Regions from separate parts of the Homo sapiens genome. Here region 1 is linked to region 2. The links come from fine-mapping of genetic effects on gene expression. A gene starts in region 2. The other region holds a variant in brackets. All regions are shown on one strand. Distances are from middle to middle.

What was found. PIP is the estimated chance that this variant, and not a neighbour inherited with it, causes the effect.
Region 1: its variant is fine-mapped to the expression of ZNF823 in whole blood (INTERVAL, PIP 0.98).

Annotation. Positions count from the first base shown.
Region 1 is chr19:12,146,298-12,149,208 of GRCh38, reverse strand. ZNF625 (zinc finger protein 625) reads left to right here. Exons shown (of 4, transcript NM_145233.4): 2 at 1,407-1,533; 3 at 1,754-1,814. It overlaps ZNF625-ZNF20 (ZNF625-ZNF20 readthrough (NMD candidate)), which reads left to right. Exons shown (of 8, transcript NR_037802.1): 2 at 1,407-1,533; 3 at 1,754-1,814. Among named protein-coding and RNA genes, the nearest start is that of ZNF20, 7.4 kb to the right of the region's middle. The variant A/C (reference allele first, on the strand shown) is at 1,161.
Region 2 is chr19:11,737,371-11,740,281 of GRCh38, reverse strand. ZNF823 (zinc finger protein 823) reads left to right here and starts at 1,336. Exons shown (of 4, transcript NM_001080493.4): 1 at 1,336-1,465. The coding sequence starts at 1,463. RefSeq lists silencers at 1,158-1,352, 1,613-1,762 and enhancers at 1,363-1,442, 1,833-1,962.

The DNA.
Region 1 (2,911 bases), 410 kb before region 2:
TGTTCAAGTGATTCTCCTGCCTCAGCCTCCTGAGTAGCTGGGATTACAGGCATACGCCACCGCCACCACACCAGCTAATTTTTGTATTTTTAGAAGAGACGGGGTTTCACTATGTTGGCCAGAATGGTCTTGATCTCCTGACCTCGTGATCCACCTGCCTTGGCCTCCCAAAGTTGGCTATTGTTAACAGTGGTTTTCAAATGTGTCTTCAAGATCTGGATTTCAATTTTTTTTTAATTGAAAATAAGTAGACACAAAAGTAGATTGCTGAAAGATATGTTAATTTTGGCCAGGCGCAGTGGCTCATGCCTGTAATCCCAACACTTTGGGAGGCCGAGACAGGTGGATCACAAGGTCAGGAGTTCAAAACCAGCCTGGCCAAGACGGTGAAACCCTGTCTCTACTAAAAAAAATACAAAAATTAGCCAGGCATGGTGGCGGGCGCCTGTAATCCCAGCTACTTGGGAGGCTGAGGCAGAAAATTGCTTGAACCTGGGAGGCTGAGGTTGCAGTGAGCCAAGATTGTGCCACTGCACTCCAGCCTGTGTGACAGAGTGAGACTCTATCTCAAAAAAAAAAAAAAAATGGTAGTTATATTATTTTTTTCAGGCACCGTCATACTATTCCATAGGGGCTGAGCCATTTACCATCCTTTGGACAGAGCACATGGGGTTCATTTTCTCTCTTGATGGTGTTCTCTTACACCATTTCACACAAAAGTTTTTACATTTGATAAATATTTGCCTTTTTGTTGAGACTGGACACCCTGGAGTTTTTGCCTCTCCAATCTTGTTGCCATTCAACCTCCAGCAATTCATCAGTTATAATTCAGGCTTTTCTACCCAAGCACAGTTTCCAAGAAAGGTTTCTGCTCTTGATTTTTTGTTTTAGTTAGTTATGACTCTTATCAGTCAGATTGGTAGGGCCTCAGCCAGGCTTGGTGGCTCATGCCTGTAATCCCAGCACTTTGGGAGGCCAAGGCTGGTGGATCACTTGTGGTCAGGAGTTGGAGACCAGTCTGGCCAACATGGTAAAACCCCATCTCTACTAAAAATACAAAAATTAGTTGTGCGTGGTGGCAGGCGCCTATAATCTCAGCTACTTGGGAGGCTGAAGCATGAGAATCATTTGAACCTGGGAGGCGGAGGTTGCAGTGAGCC[A/C]AGATCATGCCACTGCACTCCCACTTGGGTGACAGAATGAGATTCTGTCTCAAAAAATAATAATAATTAAAAAAAAAGAATTTCTTTATGGAAGAGTGAGTGTTGACAGAGTAAAAAGTCTGATGACCAGATCATGGAATAAATGTTTGGAGTCCATAGCACCATGGAAACTTTGTAGGAATAGAGTATAGGAACCCAGTGCTGTCAGTCTCACCCATGTTTCTTTACACATGTGGGATGTTTCAGGATTCAGTGGTCTTTGAGGATGTAGATGTGAACTTCACCCAGGAGGAGTGGGCTTTGCTGGATCCTTCCCAGAAGAATCTCTACAGAGATGTGATGCAGGAAACCTTCAGGAACCTGGCTTCTGTAGGTAAGGGTAACAATATTACTTTCCTCAGTGAATTAGAGAACAAGTGTTTCTAGCTTGTCAGTAGTGTTGAGTGATTTGGAGTGTGGACAGGGAATAGTGAGGACAGGGAATAGGAATGTGAATAAATGCTGCAAGGCTGCAGTGTACCATGAACTTAGAATCTAGTACTTTTTTCATAATTTTGCTAATTCAGGACTATTTTTCTGGTTCTGTATTTTAGGAAAAAAATGGAAAGATCAGAAAATTGAAGATGAGTACAAAAATCCCAGGAGAAACCTAAGGTAATTCGCATTCACAAGAGAAAGTGATGTCTCTCTAGACAATCATAGAATGGAAGAAAATGTTAAAAAGAAGCAAACAAGAAATAAGCCAAGTTCCACTGTATTTATTCTTACAAAATTTTCTCTAGGGCCGGCTGTGGTGGCTCACGCCTGTAATCCCAGCACTTTGGGAGGCTGAGGCAGGCGGATCACGAGGTCAGGAGATCGAAACCATCCTGGCTAACATGGTGAAACCCTGTCTCTACTAAAAATCCAAAAAAATTAGCCGGGCGTGATGGCGGGCACCTGTAGTCCCAGCTACTTGGGAGGCTGAGGCAGGAGAATGGCATGAACCCGGGAGGCAGAGATTGCAGTGAGCCGAGATCATGCCACTGCACTCCATCCTGGGCGACTGAGCGAGACTCCGTCTCAAAAAAAAAAAAAATCTCTAAAAACATATATTTAAGTGTGACATAGGCTGAACATCCTGGCTTAAGCCTATAATCCAGCCCTTTGGGAGGTTCAGGTCAGAGATTGCTTGAGCTGAAGAGTTTGAGGCTACACTCGGCCATGATAGCACCATTACACTCTAGCCTGGGTTAAAGGGCAAGACCCTGACTCAGAAGCAATAAAATTGACAAAGACAGTTAGTACTTGTAAAATAGTTTACCTGAAAATAGTGTTGGCCGGGCGCCCAGGTGTATGCCTGTAATCCTAATGCTTTAAGAGGCTGAGGTGGGCAGATTGCTTGAGTCTAGGAGTTTGAGACCAGCCAGGGAAATGTGACAAAACCCCATCTCTAGCAAATATACAAAAATTAGCCAGGCACGATGGTATGCTTGTAGCCTCAGGTAATCAGGAGGCTGAAGTGGCAGGACGGCTTCAGATCGGGAGATGGAGGTTGCAGTGAGCTGAGATCTCACCACCGCACTCCAGCCTGGATGACAGAGTGAGACCCTATCTCAAAAAATGTTTAAAAAGTACTAAGAAGCCCTATATCAATATTATCTTTCTTGATAACAGGTATAGCTGGGCCATCTTGTAGAGCATGTGTGGTCTGTTCATGTTCAGACAGGGCAGAAAGCCTACACATTGCTGTACAGTGTTAGAAATACAAG
Region 2 (2,911 bases):
CTATTTAGCCATGGCTACCAGCTTCTAGTTCATAACGCTTTTTTTTTTTTTTTTTTGAGATGGAGTTTTTTTTTTTCCTCGCTCTGTTGCCCAGGCTGGAGTGCAGTGGTGTGATGTCGGCTCACTGCAACCTCTGCCTGCCGGGTTCAAGCGATACTCCTGCCTCAGCTTCCTGAGGAGCCGGGATTACAGGAGCGTGCCACCACACCCGGCTAATTTTGCGTTTTTAGTAGAAACGGGGTTTCATCATGTTTGTCAGGCTGGTCTCAAACTCCCGACCTCAGGTGATCCACCCGCCTCAGCCTCCCAAAGTGCTGGGATTACAGGCGTGAGCCACCGCGCCCGGCCATAACGCTTTTAAGTCTAGTATTTTTACTTCATAAACATATGGAGAAAGGCTAATGTTTTCAAATTCAAAGTGTGATGTCTTGGCTTTTGATTGGAGCGTTTAATTCATTAACATTTAATGGCATAAGGAGGGAGCATTTCCACGCTGTGCAGAGGGGACAGGTATTTTGAGACCTCAGAGTAAAATTCTTAATTGTCCCTCCCTTATCACCAGCTTCTGATCCACCCCGGAGCTCCATTTTAGGAATCATTGCCTGGCTTCCCAGCTTGGGGATATGTTTGACCTCCTGAAAGGGGGTCTGCTTGTGAACTGTGAGTGCAGTAGGCTGCTTCTCTGAGCTTGTTCAAGTTTTTGCTTTTCTTCTCTTTTGATTCTTTATGAAATATTGCTGCCATATAATTCCAGTTTTTCCACATACTCAACTATTTTATTTTGTTGTCCTGTTTTTATCTTCTGGGCTGAAAATGAGTAGATTGAGAGATAAGGTGAGGGAAAGGCTTGGCAACGTCGCCAACAGCCTCATCCCAAATTCCTGATCCCTGGAGGACATCAGGCCCTCCCTCCTGCTGCAGGGTGGCCTGTGTGCCCCGGGCTCCCCTCCTGCTCCGAGGTCCGGGAATGGCTCCACTGGACAGGGAGCCTGGAATTCCCTGCACACACTTGTGAGTCCCTGTCCAGGAGGAAAAAGCAGGAAGAACCCACTGAATACAATCAGGAAATTCTAAAATGCAAACGTCACTTCGGGAGGGGTCAGGTCACTCCGTTGGGAGGAAGCCCGCCTTGCCAAGGGTCGTGCCTGGAACCTGTTCATCCGGCTCCACTCAGCACTGTGAGATCGCTTCTTCTGTCAATCAGCCACCAAGGGGCGGGACCTGGAGCACTATCCAATCAGGGATGAGGGGGCGGGGATTGTGAGAACTGTCAATCAGGCACGCTGCAGGGAGGAGGGTGCGACGTTCAAAGAGCCCGCGGAGTCTTCTCCACGCCCCTGCGCTCTGAGTCCTGGCTCTGGCGCTGAGAGAGAGACGCCCTGGAAGGTCTGTATCAGCGTCTGTCGCGCTGGGACCCACACTGGCTTTTAAGGAGGACACCCGGACACCTGGAAGCTGGGAAATGGTGAGTGTGCGGGGCCCGGCGTCCCGAGGCAAAGAAGGGGCAGGTTGGAACCGGCCGGAACCGACCGTGAGGGGACCCGGGCCTCGCCCTGGGCGACTCCGGGGTCTGCAAATCCCAGTGCCCCTGGCGCAGCTCTGCCCTTGGTCCCCTGGGCCGCAAGATGGGGCTGGGGCGGCAGCCGGGACCCCGGGCGTCCTGTCCCGTCCCTGCTCGGCCGCTGCGGCCCCGGCCCCGGCGCCCTCTCTGGGCAGCTCCGCGCCCGCAGCTCCGCGTCTCCCCAGATTGTGCAGTTGTAACCGGCACAGGTTCACGGCCCGAGTCACTGCACCGAGACGCCGAAGGCTGCAGCAGAAACAGTTTAATGGGGGAGAGGGGAGGACACCCCAGATCCGCCTCCCTGAGAGGTTTGGGGATGGGGTGTTTAGAGGTGTGGACAGGGACGGCTGGAGTGTGGGGTCGCTGGTTGGTGGAGAAGTGAGAGGTGACTCCTGGGACTGGAGGTGAAGAAACCGCATTCTGCTGAGTGGGTTCCCTTGTGGGGTCTTCAGCCTGGTTGGCGCCAGCCTTTCCGCTGCAATTCAGGATCCGAGAAAGAACTGAGGCGACCCGTGAGCAACTCTCAAGAGATCTTATCCCCGGGCACGATGAGGAAGCCGGCGGTCAGCGTCTGCTGTGACCTGACTCTCAGGGAGGCGGCCCCGTGAGGCAGCGGGGCTGAGGGCACCTGGTTAATATCTAACTGCAATCTCGCCTCCAGCCTGGCTCGCAGTTCCTGTGAACCCGGTGAGGACGCTGCACGGTGACAACGGAGGGTCACCAGGCAGAATCCAGACTCGTGTGTGTGGGCTTTGTGCTTTGGAAGAGAAGCTGTGATCTGTGGGTTCCCCAGTCCCTTCTTTCTTCCCAAAGGTGACCGGTTTCCCTCCGAGTCTTCCAAAGATGTGGGCAGCAGGGTCTCAAATCCACCACCCTATCCCCTCATCCTAACTCCTCCTAGGGCTGGCAGCAAATCTCTTGGTTTTCAGAGCCTTCCCCAGGCTAACTGTCTCTCATCAATTCCCAGCAACTTTATGAACTCTTTGTCCCTCAGGCAATATTTCAAACAGAGGCATTATTTTAATTGTCACTTTCTTTTCACATAGCAATGTATGGCTCTTTTTAAAAGATGTGTTTTTGTGTTTGTGAACATTTCACATGTGAGGAAGCAAAGAATAACCACTTGACTCCAGTGTGAAAAAAAAAAAAAAAAAAAAAAAGCCGGGCGCGGTGGCTCACGCCTGTAATCCCAGCACTTTGGGAGGCTAAGGCTGGCGGATCACCTGAGGTCGGGAGTTCGAGACCAGCCTGACCAACATGGAGGAACTCCGTCTCTACTAAAAATACAAAATTAGCCGGGGTGGTGGCTCATGCCTGTAATCCCAGCTACTTGGGAGGCTGAGGGAGGAG